Regions from separate parts of the Homo sapiens genome. Here region 1 is linked to region 2. The links come from fine-mapping of genetic effects on gene expression. Tissue or cell type: lung. Region 2 holds a variant in brackets; the other region holds the start of a gene. All regions are shown on one strand. Distances are between the middles of the regions. Region 1 holds the start of CNTN6 (contactin 6). Region 2 overlaps CNTN6 (contactin 6).

What was found.
Region 1: it holds the start of CNTN6, and the variant in region 2 is fine-mapped to the expression of CNTN6 in lung (TOPMed, PIP above 0.99).

Annotation. Positions count from the first base shown.
Region 1 is chr3:1,084,595-1,101,413 of GRCh38, reverse strand. CNTN6 (contactin 6) reads right to left here and starts at 8,390. Exons shown (of 23, transcript NM_001289080.2): 1 at 8,294-8,390.
Region 2 is chr3:1,230,997-1,247,815 of GRCh38, reverse strand. All of the region lies in intron 4 of CNTN6 (contactin 6), which reads right to left. Among named protein-coding and RNA genes, the nearest start is that of CNTN6, 150 kb to the right of the region's middle. RefSeq lists an enhancer at 11,116-12,315. The variant A/G (reference allele first, on the strand shown) is at 6,697.

The sequences.
Region 1 (16,819 bases), 150 kb after region 2:
GTAAATGCTATGTAAGTATAAAACTCTTTAAGAAGTACACATAGCCGAGGTTAAATGTTAAAGAGGTAAGCCCTCAGAGGCACCAAATGGAGAGAAACTCAGACTGGCAAGGAGATTGTAAAGTTGGAATAACCTCCCAAAAAGGGGTCCTTTGCATTACATAGCTGACCTTATGGAAACTTGGTGATCTGGTAGAAAAAAGAATCCGAAAAAGGCAATCAGAACCCAGAATGTGTACTATGCTTGGTTGTAGGGCCCAAATTCATTCTGTCTATATGGTAATATAATTTGAAGCCAAAAAATTCACATATAAAATAGTCCAGAACCAGAGATATTTGTAGAGCCACTGTAGAATCAATAGCAATGCGATGCTATGCAAAAGCATACACAACTCAAACAAGGTTGGTCTCCCATAGAAAACAACATCTGTTGAAGGTGAATTTGTCATAAAAAAATTATGAGCACCAGGAAGAATGAACCACCATGAGGGAAATCCAGCAGACATAAGTAATAAAGAAATTTGACTCTAAAAATTAAAATAGTAAAACAATCACAATCTAAAATAAACTTACTGAAATTTTTTTGAGAGCTTAAGAATGGGAGAGAAACTATTAAGAACAAGCAGAATAGCAGGATAATTTTTAAAAGAGCAATATAAATTATAGAAATTAAAACTGTTTTTTAAAAAATAAAAGTATAAAATACAGATTGGTAGAAATTACACTGACTGCAACACTAGAAAATGAAAGAAATGCAAAGAAATCAAAGACAGAAGCCTAGAAATAATGAATGAGCATTCCTGAAGGAGAAAATAAAGGGATTTAAAAGACGCAAGATTGAAATATATAATAGCTGAGAATTTTTCAGAATGGAAGAAAGATTTAGGAGCTTGCAGAGGCCTAAATGAGATAAATTTGAAACAACTCCACAACTACATACATTGCAGTGAACTTGAAGAAATCAATGACAAAGAGAAATTCTTAAAATCTGTCCGAGTGAAAAGACGAATATTTATTCAAAAGTGTGATAATTACATCATAAACAGTCCCCTCATGAGCAAAATTATATTCCAGAAGATCATGGAACAGAATATGCAAAAATTGTTGAGAGAAAAGTATCTTCCACATAGAGTGCTCTGATGAACTACAGTATTATTTTAGAATGTGACTAACATAAGCGATTTTCAACAAATAAATTTTAAGGGAGTTTAAAACAATTTTTGAATGACCTTAAAATGGTCTTCAGAGCACAAGAAGAGAATCTAGGAGATGCACATAAATAGCAAGAATATGGTAAATAAAGAACTCAGGAAATCACGTCATAAGTCTAAAAAAACCTTGACAAAAATATTGGGGGCAGTTTAAAAATAAATAGTGCAAATATGAGCACTGGGAGAAATATCTCAGAGTAAATTTAAACAAGTCATTGTCCTGTTTATGAAGAAGATATATACACTATCTTTAGTCTTTATTTGAAAATATAAAAGTACATTTTATGTTAAAATAGTTATTTACTAAAATACGATAAAGGGAGTATACCATTTTTAACTAATAAAAGTTGAAAAAATGAATAAAGAATATTTCCTCAAACCAATAAAAGACTGTTTACTAAAAAACACTTTGGTTGAATATGAAGTAAGAAGTAAGAAATAAGTCCAACTTCATCAACATCATAGTAGGTGCGGATGAATTAAGTACATTTGTTGAAACATAGGAATTCTGAGACCAGAAATAACAAACATGAAATTGTTGACATGCAGCACGGACTTGATATTCTTAATGAAAATCTCACTTAATGTGTATAAGTTTTCAATGTATGTGATAATAGAACACTGCAATAGTGAATATTTTCAATAAATTAAATATCCCTCAATAAGGGAATGAATAATAAGAATATAAAACACATAAGGTGAAATATATCCTAGAACTGTATTTATTTATTTAAATTAATTAATTAATTTTTTGAGACAGAGTCTGGCTCTGTCACCCAGGCTGGAGTGTAATGGCTCAATCTCGGCTCACTGCAAGCTCCGCCCCCCGGGTTCCCGCCATTCTCCCGCCTCAGCCTCCCCAGTAGCTGGGACTACAGGCGCCCGCCACCACACCCTGCTAATTTTTTGTATTTTTGGTAGAGACGGGGTTTCACCGTGTTAGCCAGGATGGTCTCGATCTCCTGACCTCGTGATCCGCCCGCCTCGGCCTCCCAAAGTGCTGGGATTACAGGCGTGAGCCACTGAGCCCGGCGAAATGTGTTTATTTATAAGAATGAGTCTAAATAGTCTAATATGGAATGAGTTACACAAGTTAAATAAGTTTGCTTTCAATATACTATTTCCATAATATTTTAAAATAATATTTTATATAGGCATACATATATAACAATTATATGTAAATATACAATTCATGGTAATGTAGAATGAGGAATGGACTAGGTAGAGTTACAACGTAGGCCCTTATTATATATTGTATTAGTATTTTCATTTTATGAATACTGAAGATGTTAAATCTCCAATAAAATTTAGCATTTGGTAATTCTGGGGGTGGGAATTGGTCATTATTAAATTTAATCCTTACCTGAATACTTAAAATTTCCCACTATATATATATATATATATATATATATATGTGTGTGTGTGTGTGTGTGTGTGTGTGTGTGTGCATTACTGCCAAAAGAATTCAAAGACTTATGTAACACCTAAAATTGTCTTGTGAAAGTGTGAAAATAGGAAAAACTGCCCATCTTTAAAAAAATGGAGTCAGCAGACATGATGTTGAGTTTATAGATTCTGCAATAGAAGTCAAATATATTATTCAAATGTATAATGGTGGCCAGAAGGAAAACATTACAATAAAATAAACTATAGAAAATATCTCTGTGAAATAAGACAGGAAATCATGGAAAGGTCTTTATTTTTTATTTTATTGTTTTCTCTATAATTTCAAATTTTATTGTTGTTGTTTCCAGGTGCATACATTACTTGATTAAGGCATTATCATAAAAAAAGAACAACAACAACATAAAACAACAGGAAAGAAATGTACAAGTATTTGTGATGTTTTTCTTTGAAGAAAGAAATTCTGGCTTATTTGTTCTCGTGCTTTTCTGTTCATTGCTTTTATAATCAAAAAATCAAATATACCCTTTCTCTTTTTTTTATTTTTATTTTATTATTAGTATTATTATACTTTAAGTTTTAGGGTACATGTGCACAATGTGCAGGTTAGTTACATATGTATACATGTGACATGCTGGTGCACTGCACCCACTAACTCGTCATCTAGCATTAGGTATATCTCCCAATGCTATCCCTCCCCCCCCCGCAAATATACCCTTTTTCTTGATCATGTCCAATTGCTTGGTGTATACAGAAATACCATTTCTATTTTTAATCTAGTTGGATCCAGAGACCAGCATCTCTATATCTTCTCACCATTTTTCCTGAGCTCTATTTTAATATCCACTTATGATTTACACTCCAAATTTAATTCTCTATTAAATACCCAATACAATTGATTAGATGATAATTATAATTTTAGTCTTTTCATTGTTTTATATTATTTTTACCCAATTGATCCTAAGGCTCATATATAAATGTTATAATAGCAATAATAATATAACAATAACTAAACAACTAACACATAGAGTGCTTCTTAATTGCCAGGCTTTCTTCCAAGATTTTTTACATATTTACCTGCTGAATTCTCTTGAAAATACTGTAAAGTCAATACTAATATTATCTCCACTATGAATGGGGAAACTGAAGTACAAAGAGGCTAAGAAACTTGCCTAAGACCACAGAGCTATTCTGTGCTAGATATAGGGAAGGAAATCTACAATGGGCGGCACTTCAGCTCAAGAGCTTGCCTCCTGAATCTTGCTCTCACTATCATTTTATTGACACTGAGAAATTGCTATTTGCTTTTTAGTAAGATCATTCGTTTTTTATAATACTTCATACGACACATCATGTTCTTTTATTGCCTCTTTTAAGGATTTGAAATATAGGGAAATTCAGTTATTTATTCATTCATTTATTCATTTAATTGTAAACCTAATACATATAAGTTTTCTACTCAGTATACTTTCAAAAAGGATTTGAGTCTACAGATTTTGATTCATGTTACTATGATGTAACGTTTCTGTAAATTACCTTAGGACTCATTGCAAAATAGTTAAGTAGGCCACAGACTTCATCAATATAAACTAATAGGGGACATTATCAGAAGGCATGCCCAATGGCTCTGTTTTTCCTCTACTATGTCCTGTGTTACGCCTTTACCGTAATAAATGTTTAATACTACAACACATCATGCAGATGAACTCAGTCTTAACTAGAACAGCTCTTTTCAATATGAATACTGAGAATAACAACATTCTAATAAAATTTTCATTCAAAGAATTCCTCCAAACTGAAAGATTGCTATTTAAAACTCCTTAAATAAAGAGATTTTTAAATGTCCTCTATTGTCCCACAGAAACAATAAAGAGAAATATAAAAGGTGGCAGTGGTCGTGGTGCAGATAAAAAACGAAGCAAAAACCCTCCGTCTTCAGTGAAAATGTTAGTGGACAAAACCCCAAAACACGACTTGAAGCCCATTTCCACTGTAGCCAAATACTAAAAATCATGGACCTTTGGGGGACATCAGAGAAAACCGATCAGTACTTTCTTTTTCTCTTACTTTCAGGAGGATACAGATTGCCCAAAAACCTGCCAGCTGAGGAAATTGCTAGAGTGTTAAGAGAAGGAAACATGTATTTACAAGATCACAATACAGAAGGTTGTGCCTTAATAGGTTTATTGCAAGCTATACTATTCATTCAAGTGGCAAACAAGAGAACAAGTGGTTCTCAAATAAAGAAGATAACCAATTTGTCAATTAAAATTGAAAAGAAATTTGGATATGAAAGATGTGGAAAGTAGACAAATGAGATACAACATGTACAAAATTGGTGATCCTGAAGAAAAGAAAGAAGCAAGATAACCACAATTTGGCCACGCCCAGTTAAGGGACAAAAAAGAAATAGTACAACAAATCCTAAAATAAAAGAATCTTAAATTAATGGGGCAAACCTCAAAAAAAGTTAATGAAAATGGAACAAATCCAGGAATATTCTGTAAAAGCAAACACCCATACACACACTCACACACACACACACAACAAAAGAATCATGTAGGCATTTATCAGAAAAAAAGCAAGTCACATTCAATGACGGAAATTGCAGACAGACCTAAAAATGTTGCAAAACAACTTTCAGTACAGGAAGGGTCTCCAAAAATGTTTAAACATTTACACATTTCCAAAAGAAAAAATTAAGCTTGATCCAAGAAAGATAACGTATCTTGCATGTCTAAGGCAAAAGAAATACATGTTCAAGATGCAAACTCATAGAAAATATAGCACCTATGACTATTTCTTTGGTGGAGAGGTACTACTTACTGAAATCTAACAACCCAAAAAATAATTGAAAATAAAGAACACAGAAATGGTGAATTGGGTAGTAAAAGCCTGTTGATAAAGGATAATTCCTTACAAATTTGAAATAAGTTTAAACTGAGACCATGGGAATTCAGCCAGAATGTATGTACTCAGTAATGTAAAACTGATGTAGTTTAAATTGAGGTGGTATGGGTGGAGTTGATGACAAGTCACATTGCAAATGCATTTAACTATCATAACAAGGGTTATAAAAGTTTGTTTACTATTTAAACGTGCATCCAAAAAAATCTTCAAACTATTTCTATTTTCAAAATTTTTGGTCTTAACTGTAAGGGTATTATTCTGGACATAATATCTCCATTGGAGAGAAATCTATACATGAAATTTAACAATTTCTTCAATGTTGTTTCAACTTCTCTTTTTTCAGTTTAATTAAAATCTAAAATCAAAAATTAAACTCAATGTTTCTGTTTTCTGTTTTCTGTTTGTTTGTTTGTTTGTTTGAGATGGAGTTTCACTCTGTCACCCAGGCTGGAGGGCAATGGCGCGATCTCTGCTCACTGCAAGCTCCGCCTCCCGGGGTCAAGTGATTCTCCTGCCTCAGCTTCCTGAGTAGCTGTGACTACAGGCACACGCCAAAACGCCCAGCTAATTTTTGTATTTTTAGTAGAAATGGGGTTTCACCATGTTGGCCAGGATGGTCTCAATCTCTTGACCTCGTGATCCGCCCGCCTCGGCCTCCCAAAGTGCTGGGATTATAGGTGTGAACCACCGCGCGCGGCCAATATTTCTGTTTTTTTTTAAGTGTAGGATAAGATCTCATTCTTACAGAAGAGTATCTATTATTGACTATATTATCTAAATATTTATTATTTATTTTTTAAAAGGTGTATAGTAAGAAACCATTCTTACAAAAGTATTTATCTCTCATCTTATCTGAATTTAGGCACCAGTATGTCTCCAATGATAGTCGCCAAATTTCATGATTGTTATTTACAGGTGATGGGTTTTCCCTTTTGAACTTTTATGTATAGTTTGAGTCATTTTTAATAGGTAGAACTTATACTTCTGCATTCCAATTAATATGTTATTAAAATAAACAGTGAATAAATAAGCAAATATTTTGTATTCCTTCTCCTCACATAAAAGAATTTAAAAGGTACAAATTTACTATTATACTACTGAGCATTTTTACTTACTAAAAAAAAAACCCAGAAGTATGCAATCAATTTAATATACCACACATCCTTTTCACAACATAATTGATTTTTTTTAGAGGGGGTTCTAAACTCAGAGAAAATATGTGATCCTTTTCTAAGTAAACAAGTGAATTTGTTTTCATTAAGGAAAGCTACATAAAAATTCTAAAAAAAAATTCTGGTCCTTCACTACAAATATTCAAAGGAAGTAATGCAATGAAGTCATTTATAAATGATTGACTTTTTTGCTAAGATGTGATAAGTTATGCATTTATATAACCTCACATAAAGCTTTATATAAAAGTTTCCACATTTATATATTTGAAATCTTTGGACTGCACAGCCATGATTATTGCTTAAAAAAAGAAAAAGAAACCCCACTGAAACATCAAAGATGAAATGCTTCTGTATTTCTTTTTTTTTACACAAATTGTGTAAGTATTTTTGTATGTTTATGTTTGTTTTGTGAACATGCGTATGTTTACACATGTGTGTGAAGGAGGAGGGAAAAAGAGTCTGCTTAAACATTTCTTTCCTTATAAAATACAATGCACATAAATTGGTGAAACCTTCAACAACAAAAATAAAAAGATGATAAACCCATCAGATAAATGAAAATTGCTCAAAACAAGCAATTCAATATTCAGCATATGCTTCTTCTTTTACAGACATCTTCAGAAAACATTGCCACTGTAGATAAAATTATGAATACCTCATTTTCCAAATTGATTCTGTGTGATTCTACTGTTCACTCTATTTTTTCTCAGTATAACTTCTATTTAGTCATTCTGTGAATGTTTCTCAGAGGACATAGTCAGGATGCTGATTATTTAAACATAAGTAGTTTTCATTTGGAGAAGCAAAAACTATGAATTCCAATTTTCCCCCCAAACCCCAATGTTACAGTATCCCATTAACATAATGGGTTATACGTGGCTAATCTCAGAGCTCTTAAAAGTTTTGTTCCCAAGTCATCAACTTCTGAAAGTTTTCATAAAGTATTATAAGAACCTTAATACTGACAACTTAACTGGTGTAAATGGTAAAGGAAACTCCAGAGGCTGTTATCTAGAAGCTGGGTATAAAGCAAAATGCCAGACAAAATTTGGTGAGCCCATATGACCTCCAGTCTTGCTTTGCTCCCCTTACCAAATTCTCCCCTAGGAAACTTTATAACCATTCTTTTAAATCATCCGGTGAGAACTGCAAACCCCACCCCTCATCCCTTTGATTAAAAAAAAAAAAAAGACAAAAAACATTTAGCGATCACATTTTCCCATCTGCCGTTACAGAAAGGGCGTGTAGCCATCTGAAAGTCCCAGAATTAGCACTGTCATCCCGTCTTGCCCATTAGTTTTACTGCAGCAAAGACTAGTGAAACACTGAGAAATATACCTGTAGTCTTTCTTTCCCTGGTTTGATCCTAACCTCCCGGAATACAGATTCAATACATTTCTCCCACACAAGGAATAAATGCATTTTAAACATCAGCATCATAGAAACACAGCATCAATAAAGCAGTGACTTCTCCCCCAACCCCAGCTTTTACCTGTTATGCTAATACAAAGACATTGAAAGGAAGAAAAGCTGCAGCTTGCCCAGCAATATTCTCATTGCAGCAGACACAGCACAATTTTGTACTTACAGATCTTACCAGGGAAATGTCTCGGGATCTTTACAGTTTTTCTGCAGAACTCTGTTTCAAGCTCTCAGCCAGGCATGCTGTGCGTCCAGGCAGAACCAAGCCGTATGGAATGTCTATGCAGCTGGGAGATAATGGGACTCTTTTTCCCAGCTGGGACTGCAAGCCTTTTATCCACTGAGTATTGCGTGGCTCTTCTCTGGTCTTAAGCATGAAATACGCTCCTCTCCTGCTGCATTCCTGTCGGAGCCAGACAATCAGTTCTTGAGGCACATGTGCAAAGCTCTCGTTTGGAATATTCAAAAGGAAAATTCTTTCTACATTGAAAGCCAGCTCTATCTTCATCAACCTTCACAGAATCAGAGAGAGCTGAGAGCAGCTGCCATTCCAGGGCCATGAAAGATTAAATTCACCCTCCTCTTTCTTTGACTGGAGATAGTCACTCCTGTCGGGTCATCAGAAAATCTCTCTTATTGAAAACTGGGTCAGACTAACTACTTATTAGGTTTCCAACAGGAAAGGAAGTAATTTTTTTCTTCCTCTGGTTTCACTGCATTGTCATTTGCAAGCAAAGATTAAGCTGGTCAAGGGTCTGCACTGATTTAGACAGTATTCAAATGTAAGCTTTTTGAAGCATGCCAGTAACTCCTATTAGTGAAGGTGAAGAGAAAAGGGAAATAAAATCAAATGATTGTATGCACTATCACTAAAACCTTTATAAGTTGTATTTTTTAAATGTGTGTATGAGGCTTCTTAAAGACAGGTAAAGAAAGTGAAGTCAAACAAGTCCAAAAGAGTATTGCTGCTTTCCGAGTAACATATTTGTAATTCCAGAGGCAGAGAACAAGTGTCTATGTGTTTGCCTAAGAGCTCTGTAAGAAGAAGAATTGTTTTTGTGTTTCACCCTGGGCCCTCCAACTAAACTTTTTAATATGTTTGGGTCTTGTCATCGGGTTTTGAAGGGACTAACTGCTTGAAGGATGAAAACTAAGGAATAGGAATTACACATACATGCACACTGAGACTCTAGTGCATACAAACATAACTATAACATGAGAAAAGAATGATAGTTTGGACTTATTTTCATGTTGGCATACAAAGAAATTATACTCTTAGCATCTTAAAGTAAGTGGATACTGAGAAAATGAAATCCCCAAATCAAATGGAAATAAGTCAAAAGATATTTCTTGGCCTCAGTTTACTTTCATCTGATGAGCAAGAAGGTTTCTATGACTACATTTTATGACTATGTCCTATGGATTTCTTCACAGGGTCTAACCAACATTATAAGAGGCTTTAGAAAGGAGATGATGCTTCCTAACACAAGGTAAACTCAAAATGGGCTACCCTATTGTTTCTCCCAATTCATAAGAAGGCAAACTAGACTAATAATTTTATAGAAAGAATATCTGTTTTTATTGCCTCTTTTTTTTTTTTTTAAAAAAAATAGAAGTATTTCTTGCTCTGTAGGAATAAAAATATATTTTATTTGTAAAAATGCCAAGATGACTTTTTCTGCAGAGTTTTAAGAAAAATAATCATTATGTAGTAGGCTTTATTTTTTTTTTGTGGAAAGAAATTCATTCAAGCTTAAAGAATATCCCTTTACTCAAATCTCCAACAGTCTGACTCATATTCAAGGACAGCTGATTGCTTTGCTTTCTATTTTACCCAAAAAGGAATAAGAACCAGAAGAAAACTTCAATAAGCTCCTGTCACTACATCTAGTCACATACTTGGCCCCTGTGACCACAGACTCTCCCTTCATCTTGTTACTTGAGGTGAACCGTGCTCCCTCCTTAGACCAAGCCATCCACCTGTGCTTTAGATAGTCTTCTACTCAAGGGACCATTCTACCCACTTGTCTCTCTCTGTGGAATCATCAACTCTCCCTACCTTCTGTAGCATCACAACAAAGAGATTTGCTGCTAGTTGGCCCATTTTAAAAATCAGCACCCCTTTAACATACCGTCTTCCTCTGTCTACTACTGCATTTCCTTGCTTCTGTTTATAGTAAAACACCTTGAAGGAATTCTCTGTACTTACTGTCTCCATTCATCTTTTCTCATTTTATCTTGAATCTGCTTTGATTAGTCTTTTGTCCCCACTGTTCCACATAAGTGTTTCTGGTCATAGTCAATATTAAATTACGCATAGAATAATGCAATGGTCAACTTAGTCCTAATTTTACTTGATGTATCACTCACAAGTAATACAGTTTACCAAGTACTCCTCCTTTAAGCATTGCTTTTGCTTAATTTCTTAAATTTTCTTCTCGTTTACTACCTGCTCCTTCTCAGATCCCTTTGCTGATATCTTCTCATTTTATTAATTTTTAAACACTGGGGGAGGAGGTGTGGGTATCAAGGATCTAAAACAAGGTCTGTACACTACAGGCTACACAGAATTACTAAGGAAAATTAATTAAGACCTAAATAAGTAAAGAAATATGCCACATTCATGGGTCAAAAACACTCAATATTTTTAAGAAGTCAATTATCTCCCAATAGGTTTTTAGCTTTAAAATAATCTCAGTGAAAATATCAGGAGATTTTCTTGTAGCAATCATCAAATGAGGCTAAAATTTATGTAGCAATAAAATTAACCAAGAAAGTAAAATCGAATGATAAACAAAGTTGGCAGACATATCCTGTGATTTTTACAATTTACTACTAGTAATAGAGCGATAAAGACGGTGTGATGTTGGCAGGATAGGTCAACAAAACATAATTAAGTGTTCAAAAACAGATCAGCACATATACAGTGGATTTTAGACAAAGGTATCAGGTAATTCAATGGATATTGTGCTAATGGATATGTGCCGATTTTAGGTGAATGGATTTTAGACAGAGTTATCAGGTAATTCAATGATAAAGGCATCATAATTCAAGAAATGGTGCTTGAACAAATGAATATTCATTTGTAAAAAAGTTAACCTTAATCCTTACCTCGTACCACACACAAAAAGCTAACGTGAAATAGGTCACACACTTAAAGGTACAGCATTAAATTTTCTGGAAGAAAACCAAACACCACATATTCTCACTTATAAGTGGGAGCTGCATGATGAGAACACATGGACACATGGAGGGGGAACAACACACATCTTGGTACCCATCGTGGCGGGTGGGAGGAGGGAGAGTATCAGGAAGAATAGCTAATGAATGTTGGGCTTAATACCCAGGTGATGTGATGATCTGTGCAGTAAACCACCATGGCACTCGTTTACCTACGTAAAACCTGCGTATCCTGCACATGTACCCCGAACTTAAAATAAAAGTTGAAAAAAAAAAAAACTTCTGAAAGAAAATGTATGAGTCCTAGGATTAAGCAAAGATTTCTTAAAACTCATGTGCATACACACACATAAAAACACAGAACATAAAGAATAAATAGAAATATTGGACTTCATTAAATTTAAAAAGACTGATTTTTGAAATATATCATTAAGAAATTTTTACACCTCAATAACAAAAAAATAAGCAACCCATTAGAAAATGAAAAAAAAATGAACATTTTTAGCAAAGATATCCAAATGACATTTAAGCCCATTAAAATGATGCTCAACATCATTATTTTAAAAATGCCAATCAAAACCGCAAGACACAGCTACTAGACACTAATCAAACAGGCTCAAATGAAAACCACTGAAAATTCAGTCTGGGACTGGTGGCTCACAGCTGTAATGCTAGCATTTTGGGAGGACACGGTGGGCAGACAGCTGAAGCCCAGGAGCTTGAGACCAACCTGGGCAACATGGTGAAACCCCATCTCTACAACAAATACAAAAAATTAGCCAGGCGTGGTGACAGGTGCCTGTAGTCCTAGCTAGTCAGGAGGTTAAGGTGGGAGCATCACCTGAGCCCGGGAGATGGAGGCTGTGGTAAGCCGTGTTTGTGCCACTGTGCACCAGCCTGGACAACAGAGTGAGCACCATCTCAAAATAATAATGATAATAATAATAAAATAAAATAAAATAAAAACATTGAAAATTCCAAAAGATTTTGAGTATGTGGGACAATTGGAACTCATACCTTGCTGGTAGAAATATAAAGTGCTACAATTACTTCGTAAAACAAGCTGGCACTCTTAAAGTAATATTACTGAGAAACCCCGCTCTTATGTATTCACCCAAAAGAAATGAAAGCATATGTCCACAGAAATTTTTGCAAGGAAATTTTATAGCAAATTTTTTTTATAACAGCCAAAAGTTGGAAACAACACTGATGTCCATCAACAGGTTAATGGATAAACAAATTGTGGTGAATGCATAATTGTAATACAAGTTAGCAATAAAAAGCCAGAAATTACTGATATTCACAACTTGGATTAATTCCACAGCTATTATGCTAAGAGAAAGATATCAAAAAAAAAAAAGCAATTCTATACTGACAGAAAACAGAATGTTTGTTTAGGGATAAGGAGAAAGAGATAAATTGCAAATGGGCAACAGGGAATGTTTCGGGTAATAAAAACATTCTGTTTTTGATTGTGGCAGTGATTACAAGGGTATATGTATTGGACAAATCTTATCAACCTAGACAAATGGGTATATGTCATTTCATGTAAAGTATACCTCAATAAAGTTGATTTTTAATGAATTAAATGATGACAGACTGTAGATTCTCTTAAAGGCTTTGAAAAAATAAAATCAATAAGTCTATCATTCTACCAAAATATTGTTGTGTACATTATTATTATTATTGATTTTAGTGAAACAATCACCTCTCTAATCTCAATTTATGTTTAGACATTTTAGTTTCTTATAGATCTGAGTTAGTTTTATTCATTTATATTTTTTCTGGACAATGATGAAGACGATGATGAACATATTGATAGGCAACTTCTATAACTCAAATTATGTGTCAGGTAGTGTCTTCAGCATTACATTGGCATTAGCAATTTATTCAATCCTTATAACAACCTGATGGGTTTGATATTATTTGCAAAATCTAACCAACAAGAAAATTGGAACATAAAAAGTTTAACTAAATTGCCCAAGAACATCCAACTGGGTGACAGTGGGGGAAGAATAAAACCTAAGCAGCTTGACTCAAGAATCTAGACTAATATTGTTTTATTATTCAAATCGCTATACTCTTTCTCACATTTTGTCTACTTGACATGTCAAGTTCTGTGAGCGGTATCTTAAATATTTCCCAGAAATATTTTTCAAATGGAGCAATTATCTTTCAAGAAGCTTTGTACTATATATTCTGCTGCTAAACTGTTTCATCGATAAAGGCTACACACACACACACAAACACACACACACATATACACACTACATATATAAATATCTCTAGTGGATTTTGTTTTTATGATTATATAACATCTTAAGAATCCTTTTAAATATGTTTACATCTCCTTGACATGAATTATTTTCAGCATTTCTCCTTTCTTTCTGGTTTTTGTTTTCCTGTATATACTAGAATATTAACACTTTTTCTCACTGTTTTAGATGCCTTTCTTATAAACATCATTCAGCTTGACTGAAAAAAAATTGGCGTTGTCTTTTTATAGGGTAGCTTGTCCCATTTGTATTTAGTGTAGCAGCTAACATTTGTACTGAATATATGTTTTCCTTCTGAGGTTTGCAAAGGCATTGATCCCAACAGTTCAGTTGCACACATTCCAGTGGAATTGCATCACTTGGCGGACGCCGACATTAGGCAGAAGCTCACAAGTAGAATTTCTCTGAAGGAATGCTGTGGCAAAGTTTCTTTGCCAGTAAAATCCACTTCAGTGAACCAGGAAGCACTGCCTTTTTTTTTTTTTTTTTTTTTTTAATCCCTCAAGGCCCCAAGGGGAGCCTCTTCCTATAGCTGCTATTTCCTCTTCTCTCCTTACCAAAGAGGGGGAAAAATCCAATGTCTGTACTTTTCCTGATACTTTCCAGTGAAATACTTGGGTTGCTCTTCACTGCCAACTCTTGAAGTGGGCATTCAAAATGCTATAAACTTCAGGCTCCACAAAACCCTGATCTACTTCTGCCTCCTACAGGAAAATATTATTGACTATTGCTCTTAAATAATTGCCTTGTTGTGAAGAAACCTGTAATGACAGTTTTTTCTCCAAATAAATTAAAAGCAAAGATTAACACATAATAATTTATTGAACATGCACAATTATTTTAAAGATCTGTCATATACCAACATGAGTAATATTGTCTCGGTGTTATTTATTGCTTTGGTTTGTTTGTTATGCCCATTGGTATGTACAACTTTTCTAAATAACCATTGTTTAAAAAAATATTTTCTATAACATACTTTTCTTCTATTCACCACAGACACTTCTAATATTACCAAAATATGAATAATCTTCTATAATCTTCTGAGTGCTTCCTGTGAGCTAGACACCAAATCCAAAATCTCACTTAGTCCTGGTAACAACCCTATGAGGCAGATATTCCTATCACCTTTGACTAGCAATTGAGGTTTTTGCCAAGATCACACAACGGTAAAAAGATAAACGGGGATGTGAATCCAAGTCCACCTAACCCCAGCATTTGTATTCTAAACCTCTTGTCAAGAGTCCCCTGCTATGTCCATTGGTATATCAAATAGAAGGCGAAAATAAGTGCTATAATTTTATGGTTATTTCTAGTGTTGAAGGTATAGTAAAAAGTTTCTCTTAAATATGTAACGTTTTAGGCTATAACTGCCAAGATTTAACAATTAATTAGATAGTTAAGTCCGACATTCTTCAAAGAACTGCTTGTTTTCATGAAAATGGTCTGAATGTAATTATTTGTCTCAAACCTCCACGGTGCTTTGGTAAAGAATAGAAAATATTAAATGGTCCCAGGAAATGGAAATCATTTTTTTTTCTCTTGCCTTTTCTTTTCCTTTTTGGTGAGGGAGTGGTAGGGATTAGAGTGTCATGAAGAGAAATCCACTGCACATATCAACGTTTACTTTCCCTCAGGAAAAAGTGCATTGAAGGGAGGGTGATAACAATTTCCTTAGTCTTTTGCCCCCAAAACAATTTTTTTCACTTATACCACATATGTGTAATTTTACAGATATTCAAATTTCACTTCCCTCTGGAAAAACAAGTAACAACATTTTGCCGTGAAACGTATTCCTTTTCAAAGGGAAAATAGTAAGTGAAATGCATATATTCACCTTCTACCACATGGTAGGAAAATGTATATTTTAGAAAGCTATTGTAATACATTCAATTTAAGATCCTTGAATCTATTCATATAAAAATAGAGGAACTGTTACTTACGGCAACTTAAAATGGGGACTGGGTAAGACCTGGTATCTTATGACATGAATTGTTTTGCTTCAACCCTGGAAGGACACTGCAAAATTGTTCCATGAAACTGCCTGCCACCTGCTGCTTCCAACACTGAATTTTAATGAGTGCCAATTGCTCTGCAAGGCTTATTATTTTAGAGGTATTTTTTACCATAAAGCCCATTGTGATCTTTCTAAATTATAGAATACATTGCTTGGGCCCCAGTGAAAATAAATGTATTTCATTAATGCTATTCCTCTTCTACTCTAATTTTTTTCAACTCTGAAGATTGAGAGATGTTCCACATGTAATAATTATTACTGTATCTTATTTCCCAGGCATAATGAAGAGGTCAGAAGCCATACCCTCTAAAATCTTACTATGCATCAAGAGTGTAGTCTCTTAAATAACTTTTCTGTCTCCTCCATTTTTGTTTGTTTGTAATTTATGAAGTGTAAAAATTGTTGTGTTGTGTTTCTTTGATGTTTAGACATAGAAAACATGAGAGTCATTAGTTCCCATTAAATAGAATTTACCTATTGGCCTACTAGCATCATTACCAGAAATACGTCATAGGCTTTTCTTTCACAGGAAATATACTGATATTTCTTTTATAATCATATGGTAGATTGATTTATTAGTCTCAATTCCTCACCTTTCCCTGCACATACACTCTTGCCATTGCCTGATCATAGATGGAGTATACTTCTCTGCCCCTTGATTTGGGGCTTAAACATGTGACTTGCTTTGACCAATAACATGTGACTAGAAGTCACAACGTGCTGGCTATAAGCCTAGGCTTTAATTGTCGTTTGTGTTTCTTCTTACCTTCTTGTTACCTCTGCTATTACCATAGAAAAACTCACTTTGGCTAAACTGCAATCCATGGAGGATGAAAAGTACTTGGAACAGAGCTATTCCTGTTGATCCAAAGATCTCAGTAAACATCAGAGCTGCCCAACTAAGCACAGCCTAGATGACCTTACCCTCATCCATCTTGTATACATGGGAGAGAAATCAATTCTTCTTGTCTTAAGCCACTGAATTTTGAAATGATTTTCTATGGAACCATAACTAGTCGATACAATATTATCACTTATTGAAACCAAGCTGACTTAGTCTGGGTTCTCCCAAGAGCGGAGCTTCAGTCAAAGAGTTTTTGCCTTTTGTCACGTTAGCCACTCATTTCAAAACGTGATCTCAGAAAACAGTAATCACAGTGTGAGTTAAAAATGGAGCAAGGAAAAGCCAATAAAAGGATGTATTGAGTTTTTCAACACCATATAGGAATAC
Region 2 (16,819 bases):
ACATGGTAGCTATTATTTTTGAGATATGCTATAGGAAGCTACCATAAAAAAGCCAGCATTGCATGTCTGTGAGGGGACTATAATCCACGGAATCACCCACTGCTCTTGATGCAGGTTCACAGGAGAAGCTTCCCTCGGGCTTTTTATACTCAGGGTGATTATACTCACAGAAACAGTTGTTATATTTTTATCCAATGAAAGATATGTACCGCTCTTTGCCTTGGTCACTAATTCTAAAGCTTTTTAAAGCTCAATTTTCATAATGGATTGGATCTCATGGCATGAATTTTTATTCTCCTCTGGTTCTCTTTGGATTTTATTCTCCTTTGGTTTCACTTACAATTCAAGCCTCTTTTTTTTTTAAACCATATAGTCTATTTTAATAGCTATCAGATATTAAGACTTATTGTAAGACTGCAGTAATTACTAGAATATGGCATTTACAAATACAACAAAGGAAGAGAGAAAAAAGAGGTCAATAGCAGGCTCAAGCAGGCATGCAGATTTAATTCCCTTTAGGAATGGCACTGTAGAACAGCAAAGAAAGGACTGCATCTTTCATATATGTTCTGGCTCAATTGGATCCCTATAGAAAAAAATTGTATATTGAACCAATTTTACACCATGAAAATAAATGAATAAATAAATAAAATGCAGGTGCATTATAATTTAAATACGAAGGACAAAATACACTATAGAAGATAACAGGAAAATATGATCGCAAGGAAGGAAAACAGTTCTTAAACTTTTTACAAAAAACATCTCAAAAAGAAAAAGACCAATAGATTGAACTATGTTAAATTTAAATTTTTCTGTTTATCAAAAGACATGATTAAGAGAGTGAAAAGGCAAGCGACACAGTAGAAGCGGTTTCCTACACAAAAAAGCAACATTGTGCTCTTCTCTAGAATCAATCACTAATGAAAACAAAGACAACACAATTAAAATATGGAAAAATGAATTAAGTTATTCCTAGAAACCAAGGGGAGGGAGGGAGGTTTCCAAATAGCCAATAATAATTTTAAAAAGTGCCCAATTTCATTAGTGATCAGGAAACAGAAGCTAAACCAAAATGAGATACTTTTTACTATCCCCCTGCAAAAGGCTAAAATTTTTAAAAAGACTGATCATATCAAATATTGTCAAGAATATAGAAAAAAACATTACTGGAAAGAGTACAAATTAATAAAATCACTATAGACAACAATTTGGTGTTATCTTTTAAAATTGTCATATGCATGCCCAATTTCCCGATAATTCTGATTTCTGGTATATACAACAGAGAAATATTTACACAGATCTCCCAAAAGATATGTGCAAGAATAATCATAGAAGAATGCACTTAGAAATAATACAATTTTCCAATAACAGTAAAAGTTCCACATAAACTGCATTATATTCATACAATAAAATATTATATGTGATCAGAAAAATGAACTACAGCTACCTACAACAATATAAAAGGATCTCAGAAACATAGTTGGCTAATAAGCCAGACTTGAAGCAATATATTATATATTGCATGATTTTATTCATATAAAATTAAAAAGCAATAATAATTACAAATTCACAAGTCAAGATATGGCTCATCTTTGAGGCAGAAGGAGGATGTCATAACTAGAAGGGGATATAATGGGCGGACCTTCTGGGGGTGTTGGAAATATCTATTCCTGGATCTGGCTTAACAATACTTCATTGATCTATCTGCTCATGTTTTTTGTACTTTTCTGTATATATTATACTTCTAGGGAAAAGAAGAGCATAAATTAATACCTTAAAACAAGCTTGTCCAACCTACAGCCCTCAGGCTGCATGCAACCCAGGATGGCTTTGAATGTGGCCCAACAAAAATTCATACATTTTCTTAAAACGTTATGAGATTTTTTTGCAATTTTTTTTTTAGCTCATCAGCTAAAAATTTGTGTATTTTATATGTGGCCCAAGACAATTCTTCTTCCACTGTAGCCCAGGGAAGCCAAAAGATTGGACACTCCTGCTTTAAAACATAATTAACATTTCAATGGATTTCCATCAAAACTCTTTATTATTTGTATTTGCTGTTTATTTGTTTGTTTTTGGCTTTCTTATTGTTCCAATAATGTTATTTATTTATTTATATTCCTTTTTTTATTTCAATAGGTTTTTGGGAAACAGGTGGTGTTTGGTTACATGAATAAGCTTTTTAGTGGTGATTTCTGAGATTTTGGCGTACCCGTCACCTGAGCCACGTACACTGTACCCAATATGTAATCTTTTATCCCTCACCAACCCCCACCCTTTCCCCCAATCCCCAAAATCCATTGTATCATTCTTATGCTTTGTGTACACATAGCTTAGCTCCCACATATGAATAAGAACGTATGATGTTTGATTTTCCATTCCTGAGTTACTTCACTTACAATAATAGTCTCCAATTCCATCTAGGTTGCTGTGAATGCCATTATTTCATTCCTTTTTATGGCTGAGTAGTATTCCATGCTATATATATATATATATATATATATATATATATATATATATGTTATATATATATGTGTGTGTATATATATATATATATGTTATATATATATGTGTGTGTGTATATATATATATATATATATATATATATATATATATATCACATTTTCTTTACCCTACTTGTTGATTGATGGGCATTTGGGTTGGTTTCCATATTTTGCTATTGCAAATTGTGCTAATATAAACACGTGTGTGCAAAGATTTTTTGTCAGGCCTCTGAGCCCAGACCAGGCCATCGCATCCCCTGTAACTTGCACGTATACATCCAGATGGCCTGAAGTAACTGAAGATCCACAAAAGAAGTAAAAACAGCCTTAACTGATGACATTCCACCATTGTGATTTGTTCCTGCCCCATCCTAACTGATCAATGTACTTTGTAATCTCCCCCACCCTTAAGAAGGTACTTTGTAGTCTCCCCCACCCTTAAGAAGGTTCTTTGTAATTCTCCCCACCCTTGAGAATGTACTTTGTGAGATCCACCCCTGCCCACCAGAGAACAACCCCCTTTGACTGTAATTTTCCATCACCTTCCCAAATCCTATAAAACAGCCCCACCCCTATCTCCCTTCGCTGACTCTCTTTTCGGACTCAGCCCACCTGCACCCAGGTGAAATAAACAGCTTTATTGCTCACACAAAGCCTGTTTGGCGGTCTCTTCACACAGACACGCATGAAATTTGGTGCTGTGACTCGGATCGGGGGACATCCCTTGGGAGATCAATCCCCCGTCCTCCTGCTCTTTGTTCCTACCTCTCTACCTCTTCTCCACTTTCCTGGGGCAGGGCCAAGTACCCCTCAACCCCTTCTCCTTCACCCTCAGCGGCAAGTCCCGCTTTCCTGGGGCAGGGCCAAGTACCCCTCAACCCCTTCTCCTTCACCCTCAGCGGCAAGTCCCGCTTTCCTGGGGCAGGGCCAAGTACCCCTCAACCCCTTCTCCTTCACCCTCAGCGGCAAGTCCCACTTTTCTAGGAGGCAAGAACCCCCAAACCCCTTCCCTCCGTGTCTCTACGCTCTCTTTTCTCTGGGTTTGCTTCCTTCACTATGGGCCACCTTCCACCCTCCATTCCTCCTTCTTCTCCCTTAGCCTGTGTGCTCAAGAACTTAAAACCTCTTCAACACACACCTGACCTAAAACCTAAACACCTTATTTTCTTCTGCAACACCGCTTGGCCCCAGTACAAACTTGACAATGGCTCTAAATGGCCAGAAAACGGCACGTTCGATTTCTCCATCCTACAAGACCTAAATAATTTTTGTCGAAAAATGGGCAAATGGTCTGAGGTGCCTTACGTCCAGGCATTTTTCACACTTCGTTCCCTCCCTAGCCTCTGTTCCCAATGCGATTCCTCCCAGATCCTCCTTCTTTCCCTCCCGCCTGTCCCCTTGGTCCCAACCCCAAGCATCGCTGAGTCTTCCCAGTCTTCCTTTTCTACAGACCCATCTGACCTTTCCCGTCCTCCCCAAGCTGCTCATTGCCAGACCCAGCTAAGTCCCAATACTTCCTCAGCCTCCCCTCCTCACACCCGGTCTGGCTTACAGTTTCGTTCTGTGACTAGCTCTTCCCCACCTGCCGAGCAATTTACTCTTTAAAAGGTGGCTGGAGCCAAAGGCATAGTCAAGGTTAATGCTTCTTTTTCTTTATCCCAAATCAGATAGCGTTTAGGCTCTTTTTCATCAAATATAAAAATCCAGCCCAGTTCATGGCTCGCTCGGCAGCAACCCTGAGCCACTTTACAGCCCTAGACCCTAAAAGGTCAAAAGGCCGTCTTATTCTCAAAATACATTTTATTACGCAATCTGCTCCCGACATTAAATAAAACTCCAAAAATTAAATTCCGGCCCTCAAACCCCACAACAGGATTTAATTAACCTCGTCTTCAAGGTGTACAATAATAGAAAAAAGTTGCAATTCCTTGCCTCCACTGTGACACAAACCCCAGCCACATCTCCAGCACACAAGAACTTCCAAACACCTGAACCGCAGCAGCCAGGCGTTCCCCCAGAACCTCCTTCCCCAGGAGCTTGCTACAAGTGCCAGAAATCTGGCCACCAGGCCAAGGAATGCCCGCAGCTCAGGATTCCTCGTAAGCCGCGTCCCATCTGTGCAGGAACCCACTGAAAATCGGACTGTTCAACTCACCTGGCAGCCACTCCCAGAGCCCCTGGAACTCTGGCCCAAGGCTCTCTGACTGACTCCTTCCCAGATCTTCTCGGCTTAGCAGCTGAAGACTGACGCTGCCTGATTGCCTTGGAAGCCCCGTAGACCATCACGGACGCCGAGCTTTGGGTAACTCTCACAGTGGAAGGTAAGTCCGTCCCCTTCTTAATCAATACGGAGGCTACCCACTCCACATTACCTTCTTTTCAAGGGCCTGTTTCCCTTGCCTCCATAACTGTTGTGGGTATTGACGGCCAGGCTTCAAAACCCCTGAAAACTCCCCCACTCTGGTACCAACTTGGACAGCACTCTTTTATGGACTCTTTTTTAGTTATCCCCACCTGCCCAGTTCCCTTATTAGGCCGAGATATTTTAACCAAATTATCTGCTTCCCTGACTATTCCTGGATTACAGCTGTGTCTCATTGCCGCCCTTCTCCCCAACCCAAAGCCTCCTTCGCGTCTTCCTCTCATATCCCCCCACCTTAACCCACAAGTATGGGACATCTCTACTCCTTCCCTGGCAACTGATCACATGCCCATTACCATCCCGTTAAAATCTAATCACCCTTACCCCGCTCAACGCCCATATCCCATCCCACAGCACGCTTTCAAAGGATTAAAGCCTGTTATCACTTGCCTGCTACAGCATGGGCTTCTAAAACCTATAAACTCTCCTTACAATTCCCCCATTTTACCTGTCCAAAAACCGGACAAGTCTTACAGATTAGTTCAGGATCTGCGCCTTATCAACCAAATTGTTTTGCCATCCACCCTGTGGTGCCCAACCCCTACACTCTTTTGTCCTCAATCCATTCCTCCACAACTCACTATTCTGTTCTCCATCTTAAAGATGCTTTTTTCACTATTCCCCTGCACCCCTCGTCCCAGCCTCTCTTTGCTTTCACTTAGACTGACCCTGACACCCATTAGGCTCAGCAAATTACCAAGGCTGTACTGCTGCAAAGCTTCACAGACAGCCCCCATTACTTCAATCAAGCCCAAATTTCTTCCTCATCTGTTACCTATCTCAGCATAATTCTCATAAAAACACACGTGCTTTCCCTGCCAATCGTGTCCGACTGATCTCTCAAACCCCAGCACCTTCTACAAAACAACAACTCCTTTCCTTCCTAGGCATGGTTAGCATGGTCGGAATTCTTACACAAGAGCCAGGACCACACCCTGTAGCCTTTCTGTCCAAACAACTTGACCTTACTGTTTTAGCCTAGCCCTCATGTCTGCGTGCAGCGGCTGCTGCTGCTTTAATACTTTTAGAGGCCTTCAAAATCACAAACTTTATCAGTCCTCCAGGCCCAAGTTGACTCTTTAGCTGCAGTTGTCCTCCAAAACCGCCGAGGCCTTGACTGACTTACTGCTGAAAAAGGAGGACTCTGCATATTCTTAAATGAGGAGTGTTGTTTTTACCTAAATCAATCTGGCCTGGTGTATGACAACATAAAAAAACTCAAGGATAGAGCCCAAAAACTTGCCAACCAAGCAAGTAATTATGCTGAACCCCCTTGGGCACTCTCTAATTGGATGTCCTGGGTCCTCCCAATTCTTAGTCCTTTAATACCCATTTTTCTCCTCCTTTTAATTCGGACCTTGTATCTTCCGTTTAGCTTCTCAATTCATCCAAAACCATATCCAGGCCATCACCAATCATTCTATACGACAAATGTTTCTTCTAACATCCGCACAATATCACCCCTCACCACAAGACCTCCCTTCAGCTTAGTCTCTCCCACTCTAGGTTCCCACACTGCCCCTAATCCCGCTTGAAGCAGCCCTGAGAAACATCGCCCGTTCTCTCTCCATACCACCCCCAAAAATTTTCACCACCCCAACACTTCAACACTATTTTGTTTTATTTGTCTTATTAATATAAGAAGGCAGGAATGTCAGGCCTCTGAGCCCAGGCCAGGCCATCGCATCCCCTGTAACTTGCACGTATACATCCAGATGGCCTGAAGTAACTGAAGATCCACAAAAGAAGTAAAAACAGCCTTAACTGATG[A/G]CATTCCACCATTGTGATTTGTTCCTGCCCCATCCTAACTGATCAATGTACTTTGTAATCTCCCCCACCCTTAAGAAGGTACTTTGTAGTCTCCCCCACCCTTAAGAAGGTTCTTTGTAATTCTCCCCACCCTTGAGAATGTACTTTGTGAGATCCACCCATGCCCACCAGAGAACAACCCCCTTTGACTGTAATTTTCCATCACCTTCCCAAATCCTATAAAACAGCCCCACCCCTATCTCCCTTCACTGACTCTCTTTTCAGACTCAGCCCGCCTGCACCCACGTGAAGGTGCATGGGTTTATTTCACCCATGTGAAATAAACAGCCATGTTGCTCACACAAAGTCTGTTTGGTGGTCTCTTCACACGGACACACATGAAATTTTTTTCTTTTTTTTCTTTTTTTTTTTTTAGTATAATAACTTCTTTTCCTCTGGGTAGACACCAAGTAGTGGGATTGCTGGATCAAACGGTAGATCTACTTTTAGTCCTTTAAGGAATCTCCAACACTGTTTTCCATAGTGATTGTACTAGTTTACATTCCCACCAACAGTGTAAAACTGTTCCCTTTTCACCACATCCATGCCAATGTCTATTATTTTTTGAGTTTTTGATTATGGCAATTCTTGCAGGAGGGAGGTCGTATTGCATTGTGGTTTTGATTTACATTTTTCTGATAATTGGCAATGTTAAGCATTTTCCCATTTGTGCTTGCTTGCCATTTGTATATCTTCTTTGAGAATTGTCTATTCATGTCCTTAGCCCACTTTTTAATGGGATTGTTTGTTTTTTTCTTGCTGATTTGTTTGAGTTCCTTGTAGATTCTCGATATCAGTCATTCGTTGGATAAATAGATTGTGAAGATCTTTTCCCACTCTGTGGGTTGTCTGTAAACTCTCATGATTATTTCTTTGGCTGTGCAGAAGCTTTTTAGTTTAATTAAGTCCCATGTATTTATCTTTGTTTTTGTTGTGTTTGCTTTGTGTTCTTGGTCATGAAATCTTTGCCTAAGCCAATGTCTGGAAGTGTTGTTCCAATGTTATTTTCCATTATCTTTATGGTTTCAGGTCTTATATTTAGTCTTTGATATATCTTGAGTTGATTTTTTTTAAGGTGAGAGATGAGGATCCAGTTTCATTCTTCTACACTGGGCTTTTCAATGATCCCAGCACCATTTGTTGAATAGGATGTCCTTTCCACACTGCATATTTTTGTTTGCTTTGTTGAGGATCAGTTGACTGCAAGTTTTTGGCTTTATTTCTGGGTTCTCTATTCTGTTCCATTGGTCTATGTGCCTATTTTTGTAACAGTACCATGTTGCTTTGGTGACTATGGCCTCAGAGAAAAAGGTGAAGTCAGGTAACGTGATGCCTCCCAGTGTGTTCTTTTTGCTTAGTCTTGCTTTGGCTGTGTGGGCTCTTTTTTGGTTCCATGTAAATTTTAGGATTGTTTTTGCTAGTTCTGAGAAGAATGATGGTGCTATCTTGATGGGAATTGCACTGACTTTGTAGATTGCTTTTGGCAGTGTGGTCATTTTCACAATATTGATTCTCCCCAACCATGAGCATGGGATGTGTTTCTATTTGTTTGTGTCATCTATGATTTCTTTCAGCAGTGTTTCATAGTTTTCCTTGTAGAGGTCTTTCACATCCTTGATTAGATATATTCCTAAGTGTTTGTTTGTTTGTTTTTGCAGATATTGTGAAAGGGGTGGAGTTCTTGATTTGATTTTCAGCTTGGTCACTGTTGGTAGGCAGCAGAGCTACCGATTTGTGTACTTTAATTTTGTATCTGGAAACTTTGGTGAATTCATTTACCAGTTCCAGAAGATTTTTGGATGAATCTTTAGGGCTTTTTAGGTATACAATCGTAACGTCAGCAAACAGAGACAGTTTGACTTCTTTTTTATCAATTTGGACACGCTTTATTTCTTTCTCTTTTCTGAATGCTCTGGCTAGGACTTCCAGTACTATGTTGAATAGAAGGAGTGAAAGTGGGCATCCCTATCTTGTTCCAGTTCTATATCTTACTGGTTTAATCTAGGAGAGTTGTATATTTCCAGGAATTTATCCATCTCCTCTAGGTTTTCTAGTTTATGCATGTGAAGGTGTTCATAGTAGCCTTCAATAATCTTTTGTATTTCTGTGATATCAGTTGTAATATCTCCCGCTTCATTTCTAATAGAGTTTATTTGGATCTTCTCTCTTCTTTTCTTGGTTAATCTCACTAACAGTCTATCAATTTTATTTATCTTTTCAAAGAGGCAGCTTTTTGTTTGATCATTCAGGAGCAGATTATTTAATTTCCATGTATTTGCCTGGTTTTGAAGGATCCTTTTGGAGTTGATTTCCAATTTTATTTCACTGTGGTCTGAGAGAGTACTTGATATAATTTCGATTTTCTTAAATTTCCTGAGACTTATTTTGTGGCCTATCGTATGGTCTATGTTGGAGAATGTTCCATGTGCTGATGAATAGAATGTGTATTCTGCAGTTGTTGGATAGAATTTTCTGTAAATATCTGTTAAGTTCATTTGTTCTAGAATATAGTTTAAGTCCATTGTTTCTTTGTTGACTTTCTGTCTTGATGACTTGTCTAGTGCTGTCAGTGGAGTGTTAAAGTCCTCCACTATTATTGTGTTGCCATCTATCTCATTTCTTAGGTATAGTAGTAATTGTTTTATAAATTTGGGAGCACCAGTGTTAGGTGCATATATATTTAGAACTGTGATATTTTCCTGTTGGACTAATCCTTTTATCATTATATAATGTCCCTCTTTGTTTGTTTAAACTGCTGTTGCTTTGAAGTATGTTTTGTCTGATAGAAGAATAGCTACTCCTGCTTGCTTTTGGTGTCCATTTGCACGGAATATCTTTTTCCACCCCTTTACTATAAGTAAATTTGAGTTCTTCTGTGTTAGTTGAGTCTCGTGAAGACAGCAGAGACTTTATTGGAGAATTCTCGTTTATTCTGCCATTCCGTATTTTTTAAGTGAAGCATTTAGGCCATTCACTTTCTATGTTAGTATTGAGATGTGAGGTACTATTCTATTCACCGTGCTATTTTGTTGCCTGAATACCTTGTGGTTTTTTTTTGTTTTGTTTTCTGTTTTCTTTTCTTTTTTTTTAAACATTGTGTTATTGTTATATAGGTTCTGTGAGATGTGTGCTTCAAGGAGGTTCTATTTTTGTGTATTTTGAAGATTTGTTTCAGATTTAGAGCTCTTTTTAGCTGTTCTTGTGTTGGCTTGGTAGTGGCAAATTCTCCCAGCATTTATTTGTCTGGAAAAGACTGTGTCTTTCCTTCATTTATGAAGCTTACTTTAACTGGATACAAAATTCTTGACTAATAGTTGTTTTGTTTAAGGAGGCTAAAAATAGAATCCCAATCCCTTTTAGCTTGTAGGGTTCCTGCTAAGAAATCTTCTGTTAATCTGATAGGTTTTCCTTTATAGGTTACCTGATGCTTTTGTCTCATAGCTATTAAGAGTCTTTCCTTTGTCTCAACTTTAGATAACCTAATGACTATATGCCTAGGTGATTATCTTTTTGTGATGAATTTCCCATATGTTCTTTGAGCTTCTTGTATTTGGATGTCTAGATCTCTAGCAAAGCTGAGGAAGTTTTCCTGGATTATTCTCTCAGACATATTTTCCAAATTGTTAGATTTCTCTTCTTCCTCGGGAACACCAATTATTCTTAGGTTTGGGTATTTAATGTAGTCTCAAACTTCTTGGAAGCTTTGCTCATTTTTTAAGAATTATTATTATTATTATTGTTTGTCTTTGATGGACTGGGTTAATTTGAAAGCCTTGTCTTAGAGCTCTGAAGTTCTTTCTTCTGCTTGTTTGATTCTATTGCTTAGACTTTCCAATGCATTTTACATTACTCTGTGTCCTAGATTTCCAGAACTTGTGATTGTTTTTTATTTATACTATCTATTTCACTGAAGAATTTTCCTTTAATTTTCTGTATAATGTTTTTAATTTCTTTAAGCTGGACTTCACCTTTTTTTGGTGGCTTCTTTTTTTTTCTTTTTGAAACAGAGTCTCGCACTGTTGCCCAGGCTGGAGTGCAGTGGCGTGATCACAGCTCACTGCAAGCTCTGCCTCCCAGGTTCACGCCATTCTCCTACCTCAGCCTTCCAAGTAGCTGGCACTACAGGCGCCCACCACCACGCTTGGCTAATTTTATGTATTTTTTAGTAGAGACAGGGTTTCACCATGTTAGCCAGGATGGTCTTGATCTCCTGACCTTGTGATCCACCCGCCTCAGCCTCCCAAAGTGCTGGGATTACAGGCGTGAGCCACCGCGCCTGGTCTCTGGTGCCTTCTTGATTAGCTTAATAATTAACCTTCTGAATTATTTTCCTGGCAATTCAGAAGTTTCATCTTGGCTTGGATCCATTGCAGGTGAGCTGGCATAATCTTTTGGGGGAGTTGAAGAACCTTATTTTGTCATATTATCATTATTGTCTCTCTGGTTTCTTCTCATTCGGGTACATTATGTCAGAGGGAATATCTGGGATTCAAGGGCTGCTCTTCAGAGTCTTTTGTCCCATGGGGTGCTCCCTTGTTTCGGTGTTCTCCCGCTTCCCCTAGGAATGGGGCTTCCTGAGAACTGAACTGTAGTGATTGCTTTGCTTTTCTGGATCTGGCACCCAGTGGAGCTACCAGGCTCTGATTGATACTGAGGAGTGTCTGCAGAGTCCTGTAATGTGATCCATCTTTAGGTCTTGCAGCTGTGGATACCACCACCTGCTCTGGTGGAGGTAGTAGGGGAGTGAAGTGAACTCTGTGAGGGTCCTTGGTTGCGTTTTTGTTTAGCGCTGGTTTTGTGTTGGTTGGCCTCCAGTCAGGAGATGGCGCTTCGGGAGTGCATCAGCTGTGGTCCTATACGGAGGATGCAAAAGTATTCAGGTTTCTCAGGTGGTGGGCAGGGCGATAGAGCTTTCAAGACATTATGACTTTTGTCTTTGGCTACCAGGACACATAGAGAAAGACCACCAGACTGGGATAGGGATAAGGTGTGTCTGAGCTCAGCCTCTCCTTGGGTGGGGCTTGCTGCAGCTGCTGTGAGGGATGGGGGTACAGTTCCCAGTCCGATGGAGTTATATTCCCAGGGGGATTATGGCTGCCTCTGCTGAGTCATACAGTTCACCAGGGAAGTGAGGGAAAACGCAGTCACAGGCCTCACCCCACCCCCACACAGCGTGAGTCCTAAAGGCCAGTCTCACTCCCACCATGCCCCACCCGCCCCCAGCAGCACTGAGTCTATTTCCAGACAGCTAGTGACCAGGGCTGAGAACCTGCCCCAGACCACCAGCCTCCCTATTGAGAAAGCAAGCCGACTCACAGTTTTTCTGCATCTCAGGGAGCCTGCAGCGGTGATCCAGTTCTTTCAAAGGGTTTGTGGATTCTCTCGGCTTTCCTGGTATGTTCCTGGGGTAGTTTCTGGGGCAAAGTATGATGTGAGTCTCCACATGCTGCTCTATCCCTCCCAGCAGGAGCTGCAAGCTAGTCTTGCTGCTTATCCGCCATCTTCTCTCCTGTATTTGCTATTTAAACACCTGAATCTGATTTACTTTTTAGACAATATTGGATATAAATTCAGATAATTATATACACATTATTACTTATAAATGCTCTTTATATGTATTATATATTTATTTATATATAAATAAACAATAGAAATATTTGATCCTTTAATGCAAAAAATGTCACTGTAATTTGAACCAATTTTATAAATCTTAGAAGCAAAATCTCTATGTGCTATGTTCATAAATTCCTTGAAACAGTTTGTCAAATAACATGAGTAATAAACAAGCATTTCAGCTTGTGCATCTGTCTCAGTTTTGTAAATCAGAAACTCCCAGTTTTGATAGAATGGATCCCCTACTTTCTTATATTTTCCTCTCCCATCCCAACTCTTAGCCTGCACAATTTTATTCAAATGAACTAAAAAGACTAGCTCCTGCTGAATATAAGTAGAAGTAGGCAGTGGGAGAAGGCCTGAATTTTGAAAAAGTACCATTTCTGATAAGACACATAAATAGATTTCCAGCAGCGATAGTGTGGGAAAAAATGAGGCTAAAGCATTGAATAATCTACTTCCCTGTTGATTTTAAATATAAATATAACAGTGGCTTGCTATAATTTAACCACGCAACTGCTTACAGTCTATTTGTTTAAGATCTGAATTATTTTTAAAAGCAAAGACAAAGTTTTCTCCTTGATATGATAACAATTGGTGGTTATGCTGTTATTTCATTAAGACAAATTGAGAATATTAAATCCATTGTAACATTGCTTATGCTATTTGCAAATGATACTGAAAAAATCAATACTAATTTACCAACTTTTTTAATTTAAGAAATTAAAGAAAAAATATTTCTTCATGGCTTTTGTTCAGTTAGTTCTTTTCTGATGTAGAAAAAAGGTTAAAAGCCATTTAGCATTTTCATTTATAATTAGGTATGCATTACCCACTTAATACGCACTTCGCAATTATCGGAGACTTTACAATTTCCAAAAGCATTTTTAAGTGTTATTTTTAAAGCTTCTTCTGCTGGGTCTTAATTTCTTTTTCTGATATAAATGCACTTTATCACCATATCATCGGGAGCACATATAACTGCTTTTATATTTCTTATATATGAAAGAATTTTAAAGAAATTTGGAAACTCTTAAAATTTATTTCTAAATGTGAGGGTTTTTGTTCTTGCTTATAAGACCCTGGTCAAAAGATAGAAATAAAAATATTTATCACCTTTAAATACACAAATATCTTAGAATCCTTCTGCAAGGAGTCAAAGACCTTTATGTTACGACTTTACCTTTTTTGTTTTTCTTTGAATATGGCATTAAATTCATGAGAATTCTGATTTACTTCCTCTGTCTACAAAATAAATATAAATTTAAAAAGTTGTTTCAAGAAGGAAATGTTAGAAATTCTGGGTCTGCTGTAGGTTAGTTGACCTTGGGCAAGTAACATAGTTGTCCTGCCTTTTAATGTCTTCACCTGTAAAACATGGTTAAGAATAGCTTACAGGTATAGAATAAAGATGAATGGCATGGCAGGTGTAAAACCCTTTGCATTCCTCTGGAAAAAACTATGATGATTGTAAATGCCTACATGTTTATAGCCCTTTAAAATGCATTCTTACTGCATTTTAACCTTGAACCATTTAAAATCAATCCTGTGATGTGGTGCAAGAATTCGTTCACTCCATTGTATATGATAAAAACTGAGGTTTGGGATGCCCCCTAAGTATGTGTGCTATGGTTTTGATAATATTAATAATATCATTAATATGTCAGACTAACATATTTAAGGAAATAGTATGTGGTATTTCAAACTACTTTTTTTTTTTTTTTTTTTTTTTTGAGACAGAGTCTCGTTCTGTTGCCCAGACTGGAGTGTACTGGCACGATCTCAGCTCACTGCAACCTCTGCCTCCCGGGTTCACGCGATTCTCCTGCCTCAGCCTCCCGAGTAGCTGGGATTACAGGTGCACACCACCACACCCGGCTAATTTTTTGTATTTTTTATAGAGACGTGGTTTCACTATGTTGGCCAGGCTGGTCTCAAACTCCTGACCTTGTGATCCGCCCGCCTCGGCCTCCCAAAGTGCTGGGATTACAGGCGTGAGCCACCGCGCCTGGCTTCAAACTACATTTTATAAACAACTTCAACATCCTTAACATTATTCAGAACGGTTCCATTGCTCTTAGGATAAGCAGTAAAATACAAAACTTGGCCTCTTAGTATTTGTATGGCCAGACCCCTGCCTAGCTCACCATCTTCAACTCATACCAGTCTATCAGTTGCCCTTGCCCTCTGCTTTCCACATAATATATTTGGTCCTCATAGTAACCCTATATGAAATGGGCAATACTGGCATTTAACCATAAATTAACACCGTACACAGTGTCATACTGAGTGTGGAATATTGTACTATGATGGATTTTTGCATGTTTCTTTGGCATCTCATAATATCTCTAAATTATCCTATTGTTTGCAGATTAGGCCCGGATATAAAGGACTACTTATAAGTGGCTCCAAATTAGTTTTCAGTCTCAACCTAGAAAACCAGTCATTTCTGATCCCTAGCTTTCTGCATTTCAGTTCTCAGGTCTTTTGCCCACCTCCCCACACTTTCTTCGATACTTGAAGATTGTTCACACATCTGCATTTCCTCTTACTGTTCTTCCGACCTGTACTTTCTCTACCACTTTCTCTGTCCAGAATACAAACTAACATGTCAAGGTTCAATGCAAGCCCCATTTCCTTTGAAAGGCTTCCCTTGCCTTTTCTCCAATTCAGACAAACTTCACTACTTCTCACTTTGAGCTCCACTCTGTTATAGGTCAATTTCACCTTTCTCACTTCACTTGATGTTTTGGGACAGTGCAGTAGGTGGTAGGACTCTTCACTCTGTCTGGATTTGAAAACAGACTCTCCCACATACGGTGTGTGATTTTAGGCAGGCTAGTTCATTCTTCTGTGCCTCAATCTGCTTATCTGAAAGTGAAGATCATGATACTCTCAGAGGGTTATTGTGAGGATCAATGGAGCTAATTTACATAAAGAGTTTGGAACAATGCCTGCCACATAATACTTTGTAGGCGTTAGCACTTTCCTTTATTTTCCTTTTCTTATTTTTAATTTTATTAAAGGTTTCCCCTGTCTGTTCTGTTGAGACAGGAAGTAGCTGTTTCTTATCTACCATTTAATCTTTAGGACCTAGTGTAGTACTTGATGGGTATAAATTAGGTGTTCTCCGGTTGCTTGGAGGATGAATAAATGAAGGGTCAATTAGGAGGCTCCAGCCCAGCTGCCTTTCCTTTTGCAATAATGGAGCAAACTTATTTGAAATGCTAGCTGTGATTACACATTAAATAATGTAGGATCAAAAAGCCCCATTCATGACTACCTTTTATCATAAATGTTTATCTTTTCATTGGTAGAGTTATATATTATAAGGGCATTTAAAAATTACATCTGAGTGATATCATGGGTTTCTTTCAAAACACCTATCTCATTTTCTCAAGGATGACATTTTAAACAGCAATGACAGATGCAATGTTCTCTCACACAAGTACAGAGTAATTCATTAACATACATACATACAAAAGGAAGAGGTCTAAGTTCAACCTTTACCACCAAAAGCTTTGATAAATAAAAGAAATTGAAAGCAGCTACAAGTGATTTTGGAAGTCAAACTAGTTTTATCATTCAAGAATGCCAGGATGATAACAGAAGCCTTTGGTGACTAGACTCCTGCTGAATTTGTTTTAGGGTAGAGTTTGGGTTGGGGAAGAAAGAGATACTTAAAATAGGATCTACCTGAGTATTTGGAAGGACAGATTATATGACAATAGCTGAAAGAGACTTTTGTAATCAAATAATTCAAAATATACTTTAGCTAAATCCAGAGAACTGAATGACTTGTCTAAGTTACATAGTTGGTTAAAGACAGATTTGATTTAGGAGTATGTTTCACAACAGGTAGTTTTTATATACAGGCCACATTTCAGGATGGTTTCATGATGAGACGATTCATAATGAAGCAGAGTGTTACAGTCTGTGTCTAAAATAAACTCAAAGTGTGCTTTTGGATTACTGAATACCAGGATAAAAGTGACAAACAAAAGCCATCAATTATCTAGAGGTATGTCCCTGCAGCGTTTCTGCCATGGACAGGGTAGATTCTGAAAGGTTGTTCATAAGGCCATTCATTCTGAAGGTCAAAGTGACATTTTACAATGGACTGCCAACGGACAGGAAGCAAGGGAGTTGATCCATTTTTATTCTGATGCATAGCTTGTTCTTATCTATGGGAGTTCATGGGAGTGGGGCTTCTGCACCCGCTTTTTTCTGTCAGTAAGTAGATCGGCAATCTCATATTAAATGTTTAATCTCTGTCTCGCTTTGGATTCCTTAGAAGCAGAGCCTGAGGCAAGGATTCAAGTGCATATGATTTATTGAGGATATCCTCTTAGGAGAAAGGCAGGGAGGGAAGAAGGAAACAGCAAGTGAAGAAGCTAATTAAGGTGTTGCAGCTGTTGTCTGGTTTCAGCCTGATCCCATGGAGAGGTTTGGGGCATGAAATGCAAAAAGG